Linked DNA regions of Homo sapiens: region 1 is linked to region 2. Evidence: fine-mapped QTL for protein levels in blood plasma. A gene starts in region 2. The other region holds a variant in brackets. All regions are shown on one strand. Distances are from middle to middle.

Evidence for each region. PIP is the posterior inclusion probability: the model's chance that the variant is causal. Protein levels are from antibody-based Olink assays in UK Biobank. Linkage for the fine-mapping came from a reference panel and not from the study's own genotypes, which makes the PIPs less certain.
Region 1: its variant is fine-mapped to the plasma level of the APOH protein (UK Biobank, PIP above 0.99). The variant lies in the coding sequence of APOH. If it changes the protein, the assay may bind it differently, which can mimic a change of level.

What each region holds. Positions count from the first base shown.
Region 1 is chr17:66,212,100-66,216,099 of GRCh38, reverse strand. It overlaps APOH (apolipoprotein H), which reads left to right. Exons shown (of 8, transcript NM_000042.3): 7 at 1,450-1,647; 8 at 3,912-4,000. The coding sequence ends at 3,967. Among named protein-coding and RNA genes, the nearest start is that of APOH, 15 kb to the left of the region's middle. The variant T/G (reference allele first, on the strand shown) is at 1,638.
Region 2 is chr17:66,227,255-66,231,254 of GRCh38, reverse strand. APOH (apolipoprotein H) reads left to right here and starts at 1,840. Exons shown (of 8, transcript NM_000042.3): 1 at 1,840-1,939; 2 at 3,059-3,235. The coding sequence starts at 1,876.

The sequences.
Region 1 (4,000 bases), 15 kb after region 2:
ACCTCCCAGGTTCGAGTGATTACAGATGTGAGCCACCATGCCCACCCCTTTTTGTGCTCTGTCTAGCCAAGGCTCTTCTCATTGCAAAAACCAACCACACATTCGAGTGAGTTCAAGGAAATTGGGGATATTATAAGGAGGCAACAGGCAAGTCGATCATGTGGGCATTGAAGATGAAGACATGAAATACAACTGATACTCCTGAAGATTGGAACTGAAAGGCAGGAACTATTCCTACTTTTTCCGTATCTCAATGGTCTCTCCCATTTCCGTCTCTCTGCTTATTCATCTTGAACATGGCTTGATATACACCAGACCCTCTCAGTTACAGGATTCATCACCAACTGGCATCTTTCCTGGAGACACTGGTTCCTTTTGAGTTAGGTGTCTACCCTTGATCCCATCAGTGTCATGCATAAGTAAAGAACAACAACAGCCTAGCATTAGAACTCTGCTCAGGTCACTATGGGCTGGACAGTTTAAGCAGAAAGAGGAACTCTGGGGCAGCAGGCAAGATGACAAATAACTAGCATCTTAGGTTACAGTTCCCTAGAAGCAGAGCCTGAGACGGGGATTCGAGTACAGTTGATTTAGTGAATGTCTCAGGAGAAGAAAGAGTGAGGCAGATTTGCGAGGGTAAGGCACCGGTTCTCAAACTTCGCTGTGGATCAGCAACACCTGGAAGGCTTGTTTTAACACAGGATTTTTGAGCTCCACTCTTAGAGTTTCTGATTTGGTAGATCTGGGATGGGGCCTGACAATTTGCATTTATGCCAGGTTCCCTGGTGATGCTAATGCTGCCGAGCCAGGGAGAAATGTGGTCTCTGCTAAAATGAGGTTCAGTTTGATCCCACTGGGAGCTCTGGAGTGTGAATTCCACCCTTGAGTTAATCCCACTAAGAGCCAAGGGGACCTGCTTTTTATATTCCCTCATCAGTCAGTCTTTGGCTTTGAGCTGCTCCCTTCCCTGACCCTGGGGGTGGTTTGCATAAACTCCTGGGAGAGGTGGCTTCCCTATGGCTGAAGGCAATTTTTCAGAGTATTTATGAGCTGTTATCAGCCAACACTCACAATGGCTGGTGGATAGATGCACCTGCTTAATGAATGCAATCTGAGAGGGCAGAGTAGGCTTACATGAAATGTCAATATCTGTTAGTTGCTTTTTTTTTTTTTTTTCACTGAAATGGAGGCTCTGATGCTTCTGTTCTGACCTTCTGTGGCTACTGTAGGGGAAGAGAAGGCCATCTTGGAAGCTATGAATAATGGTTCTATTGACAGAGAACTGCAATTAGCAATCATATTACCATTACTTACTATATATATTCTTGGATTTTTCTTGCCTTGACCAATTTGTGTAGGTGTACTCATCTACTGTTTCAAATGCTATACTCTCTTTCAGAAAGACTTCCTGAACTCTTAAGTCCTGATTACAAGTATTCTCTCTTTCAGCATCTTGTAAAGTACCTGTGAAAAAAGCCACTGTGGTGTACCAAGGAGAGAGAGTAAAGATTCAGGAAAAATTTAAGAATGGAATGCTACATGGTGATAAAGTTTCTTTCTTCTGCAAAAATAAGGAAAAGAAGTGTAGCTATACAGAGGATGCTCAGTGTATAGATGGCACTATCGAAGTCCCCAAA[T/G]GCTTCAAGGGTAAGTCTGCATTGGAACGTTTAGCTAGGACTCCCACTTGCCCGTCATCATAATCAGAGCCTTTGTTCTATAATGATTGTCAAAAACCAGATGAGGCCAGGTGCGGTGGGTCACGCCTGTAATCCCAGCACTTTGGGAGGCTGAGGCGGGTGGATCACCTGAGGTCACGAGTTTGAGAGCAGCCTGGCCAAAAAGGTGAAAGTCTGTCTCTACTAAAAATACAAAAATTAATTGCTGTGGTGCCGGGTGCCTGTAATCGCAGCTACTTGGGAGGCTGAGGCAGGAGCATCACTTGAACCTGGGAGGTGGAGGTTGCAGTGAGCCGAGATCGCGCCATTGCACTCCAGCCTGGGCAACAGAGCGAAACTCCGTCTCAAAACAAAAACAAACAAAACACAGATGAATTTGGCCACTGGGTTTTTAAAAAGAGGGGTGAGAGGGAGAAACAATGATATGAAGCAGTGAGCTGCAGATGGCGTCCCCACTTGCATTTTCCTTTCCAATTTTTTTTTTTTTTGAGACAAGGTCTCACTGTCACCCAGGCTGAAGTGCAGTGTTGCGATCACATCTCATTGCAGCCTCTACTTTCTGGGCTCAAGTGACCCTTTCACCTCAGCCTTCTGAGTAGCTGAGATTACATGCACGCACCACCATGTCCAGCTATTTTTTATATTTTTATTAGAGAAGAGATTATGCCATGTTGCCAAGGCTGGTTTTGAACCCTTGGACTCAAGCAATCCACCTGTCTCAGTCTCCCAAAGTGCCAGGATTACAGGCATGAGCTACGCGCCCAGCCTCTTTTCTAAGTCTTTTCTGTAAAACTCAGGGTTGTGGTTATATTCAATGAATGCTGAGGTGAATGATGCCATCTTGTATAATTCCAAGTTGAGCTTGAATAATAATGAACCAAATATTGAATAATAAAATATCTACCTCATCTTGGTCCCACATTATAGAGAACTCACCCCAAGTGACAAAACAACTCATGGCAATGATAATTGGTCTAAAGATCTAACATTTCCCCTTTCTCAAGCAATTCGTAGAGTTTGAAAAGTATCCATTAGAGCAAAGTATCCATTAGAGCAAAATATTTTAAGGAGAATGATACCAGGTTTGTGTGAGATAAAGAAGTGTGTAATGGCCAGCGTTTAGAGCTGCTAACCTTTTAAGGTTTCAGATTTAGGGTTGAAATGTCTCTGATGCCAGAAAGTAAGAACCAGCCAGAGGCTGAAGCTGTCCTTGGCTCTAGGTTTAGAAATCTTTCAAAAACATTGACAATCTTGTTTTAGCAGGTGGGAGAGGACAGTAGGGAGCAGACAAAGCTAAGAAGAGAGGAGTCTGAGAAGTGTCCAGCTAGTGGGAGAGAAGGGAATGATAACTGATTAAAAATACCCACCTCATGGGGTTGGTTTGATTATTAGAAATATGCATGACATGGAGGAATATAATTTTAATTGTAAATAGTTACAAATGCACTGAATAAATTGCCATTATTCAAAAGACAGCAGAGCCCTGGTGAGATGTTAAATACAAAACATGACAAAATACAATAAGCTTAAATAAAAATCAGTAGAAAAAATGTGAGAAAAGAATAATTGAAAAAAGTCTTAGCTTTGTTGATATATTTCTTCAGGATCTTCTCCCTTATGGTCTTTGGACAGATGCAGTACTGTAAAGGGCCGATACTGTTTTTTCCCCTTTAATCTTGACTGTTATAGAACAGTCTTCACTGTATATAGAACCTTTAATTTTATCTCTTGAAAATGAGGATCTTGGCCAGGCGCAGTGGCTCACACTTGTAATCCCAGCACTTTGGGAGGCCAAGGCGGGCGGATCACTTGAGGTCAGGAGGCCAGCCTGGCCAACATGGTGAAACCCAGTCTCTACTAAAAATACAAAGATTAGCCAGGCATGGTGGCACGTGCCTGTAGTCCCAGCTACTCGGGAGGCTGAGACAGGAGAATCACTTGAACCTGGGAGGTAGAGGTTGCAGTGAGCTGAGATTGTGCCACTGCACTCCAACCTGGGCAACAGGGCGAGACTCTGTCTTAAAAAAAGGAAAAAGAAAAAGAAAAAGAAAATGAGGGTCTTATCATTTCCCTAATGTTTTCTCCCATCACTTAAACCTCACACTAAATGGTTTCATTCACATAATCACATGTATTCTATATACTCGTAAAATGTATTTGGTTTGGCTTAGCTATTTACCACATTTAAGAAATGATTGTTTCTCTTAGAATGTTTATCTTTTTCTCCCCCAACAGAACACAGTTCTCTGGCTTTTTGGAAAACTGATGCATCCGATGTAAAGCCATGCTAAGGTGGTTTTCAGATTCCACACAAAATGTCACAC
Region 2 (4,000 bases):
AGTTTTCCAATTGAAGTATAATCAAGTAAACACACAGATCTTAAATATTTGGCTTGATGGCTTTTGAAAATTGCATGTAGCCAAGTAACAACCACCTAAAATAGAATATAAACTATTTCGACACCCCTACCCCAAGTTTCCTAATGCAAGGGAGCCCAGCCACCAGGAAACATCATTAAAAACCCTTCTCCTTGTCCTCTCTCAATATCAGGCACTCAGTTTGTAGCTGTTGCTGAAAATATTCTCGTCTCAATTTTAACCTTTTCTCAAATTTTCTTTAACTGATGCCCGACCTCTTTGGTTTCTCTCTCCTTTTCCCCTTCTACTTCAGATCTTACTATACAGAACGACTTGGCTCCTCCTGACTTCATTAGTTTTCTTTCTTCTTCATTCATCAAGGAGATTCTCCACAATAAAGCGGAACCTGGGAATTATCCAGAGAACAAGAATCTCCTTCCCCTTAGAAGGACAAATAGGGAAGGACCACTGTTATTTCACATTAGTGGCAGCACACTCTTCTTATCATGGAACACAATGTTCATTAGGATCGTAATTTAAGAATCATCTGCCTGACAGATGGAGATTTCTCAAGCTGATGTGTCTCAGGGAATTTTAGACCTCTGGATATAAACCAAGATCACCCAAATGAGAGCAAGCGGAGGTTATTTATTCAGAGCTTGCTATAGGAAGGGAGGCAGCCATTAACAGTTGTGTTTGGCAGAGACTCAAAGTCAAAGTCAGACAGAGGAGTGGGAAAGCTTTATAATAGAAAAAAGGAAAGGCTTCAGGTGTGCTCCAACGGATTGTTGGTATGGGGAGGATGGAAGGAAACTAACTAGAAGTGAGGTGTCCATGTGATTGGTTAGAGAAATATGTTTGGATTTCTCTGGTTGGCCTTAAGTTGGGCCAACTGCTATAGAGGTTGTAGGTTTGGCTTTCTAGACCTGTTGCTACAGATGTGTGGGTCAGAGTTCTGTTTTCACATATGGCCTGGCTATTGTCCATTTATATATCCTTTTTTTTTTTTTTAGAGCAAATGATGTAGAAGAGAACTAGGGAATCAAAGACAACCCCCCTTCCGAACCCTCTCAAGCAACAACATCAGCACTGGCCCATTATCTTATCCTACTCAAGTTTTTTTTTCTTCTTCGAGTCCCAAGTTGTTAATTTCAAATCAATTTTCAAATTCCTGAAACAGATCTAGAAACCTGTCTAGACAGATCCAAGACATATTAAGAATGGATGAGGAGGACTTTGTATTGATCTGACGTAAGAGAAGATAGAGAATTCAAGGATAGCTCTAAGGTCCTAACTGGAGCTATAGGAGCTTGCAAGAGAGGATGTTGAGCTCAGTTTGTAGGGAATTAAAGTTGTAAGTGCCTCCTGGAAGACATTCTTTGTAATTATACATCTGAAAACTGGAACATCATTTTAGAGAGGTGGAGACTGAGAACAGAGAGTAGGTGTTTGTCCAAAGTTTATATGCCAAGGCTGTGAGTGAAACAGGAGCTTCGATCTTTTGGTGTTCCATCTACAACATACACAAAACAAAAGATGGAGAATGAGAAGTCCAGGCAACCCCGGAAACAACAAGTTTCTGTCAAAAGCAATAATGAACTGTTTTGTGCCATTAACAAAAACGTTATGAAGACAGAAACCATCTCCCAAAGATTTCATAACAGAGCCACATAAGTGGAAAGTAAATGATTAAAGAATGTGGGTCTCAGAGTTCCATTCAAATCATGATACTTTATCTTCTATTTACAAAGATAAAAGTACACCAGAAAATGGTTAATGTTTAAGCGCTTTCATATTTGGCTCTGTCTTTTTAGCAGACGAAAACCACTTTGGTAGTGCCAGTGTGACTCATCCACAATGATTTCTCCAGTGCTCATCTTGTTCTCGAGTTTTCTCTGCCATGTTGCTATTGCAGGACGGAGTAAGTACTTTTTGCTTTTGAAAAAATAATTAATATATCCAACCCCTTCGTATATGTCAGGGATCAATAATGATAAGTAGGCCGGGCGTGCTTGCTCACATCTGTAATCTCAGCACTTTGGGAGGCCAAGGCAGGTGGATCACCTGAGGTCAGGAGTTCGAGACCAGTCTGGCCAACATGGTGAAACCCCGTCTTTATGAAAAATACAAAAATTAGCTGGGCATCATGGCCGAGGTGGGCGAATCAGTTGAGGTCAGGAATTCGAGCCCAGCCTGGGCAACATAGTGAAACCCTGTCTTTACTAAAAACACAAAAATTAGCCGGGCGTGATGGCAGGCGCCTGTAATCCCAGCCACTCGGGAGGCTGAGGCAGGAGAATTGCTTGAACCTGGGAGGCAGAGGTTGCAGTGAGCCGAGGTCCCCCCATTGCACTCCAGTCTGGGCAACAAGAGCAAAACTCAGTCAACAATAATAATAATAAGAAGAAGAATAATTAAATTCTTTTTTTTTTTTTTTGAGACAGAGTCTCGCTCTGTCGCCAGGCTGAAGTGCAGTGGTGCGATCTCGGCTCACTGCAAGCTCCGCCTCCTGGGTTCACTCCATTCTCCTGCTTCAGCTTCCCGAGTAGCTGGGACCACAGGCGCCCGCCACCACACCCGGCTAATTTTTTGTATTTTTAGTAGAGACGGGGTTTCACCGTGTTAGCCAGGTTGGTCTCTATCTCCTGACCTCGTGATCCACCCGCCTCAGCCTCCCAAAGTGCTGGGATTACAGGTGTGAGCAACTGCGCCCAGCTGATAACTAAATTCTCTTTAGAGTGGATGCTGGAGGGACTGGATTGATACTGATTCTTTAATATTGCCATGTGTAAAGCTCCTCTGTAAGATACGTAGCCAATTTAAGCCTCAGCATACTGACCTGTAAAATGGGGATAATTATAATACCTCCTTCAAATGGTTGTTGAGGGGATTAGATGAGATAGTGTATATGAGGTATTTGGCATGCAACTTGGTATGCTTATAATTGGTAACAGTACACACATTTTTCATTTGTGGGCTTAGCTGAACTTTAAAATGCAAATAGAGATTTGTTAACCATCTGCTTTGTGCCCTCTTTCAGCCTGTCCCAAGCCAGATGATTTACCATTTTCCACAGTGGTCCCGTTAAAAACATTCTATGAGCCAGGAGAAGAGATTACGTATTCCTGCAAGCCGGGCTATGTGTCCCGAGGAGGGATGAGAAAGTTTATCTGCCCTCTCACAGGACTGTGGCCCATCAACACTCTGAAATGTACACGTAAGTCAGTACCTTCTCTCACATTCTCTTCCCTCATTTGGATTCTGGGTATTTTGGAGGAATAAGCTACCTCGTCATGCTCAGAGTGCAGAGGGCCAGTAGATGCTGCAGAAAGCCAGGTTGGAGAGAAATGAGAAGGTCTTGGGGAGTTCTCTCTGTGCAAAGAGAGTAAGGGTAATAGGTGCTATTGATAGAAGAGGAGAAGATCATAGCCTGAAACTAGGGTAGGTTTAAAAATGAGATCTGGTGTGGCAAAAGGAGAAAGAAACACTACAGAAGTTAAAAGAACAGTGGAGAGGCTTTGAAATGTCAACTGATGCCAAAGAGACATTTGGAAAAACAAAATTTGGGGAATCATCATATCTTTGGACTTCACCTGAAAATGAAAGCGGACTTAATAGTTACTGAAATGAATACAAATTTCATCTACATTATGTATATATTATATTATAATGAAATACAAGAAAAGAGGTCAAATTAAAATAATAATATAACGTAAAATATATCAATCTCACTATGGCTTTACTGTAAATGGTTGCTTTTATTTATTTCTTAGAACATGGTTCTATGATATCATGCTAGCATTATTCTTTACAGTCAAGTATTATGCAATCAACCAGATTGAATTTATGGTACATTTAATTATATGTAGAAGTTAAGCAGTAAAAATAGATGTATGGATCTGGTGATTTTGGTTATATGAACAGGACCTTTGTCAAAGTTATGCATGTTCATGCAAGTTGATTTTACTATGCTTTTTTGCTT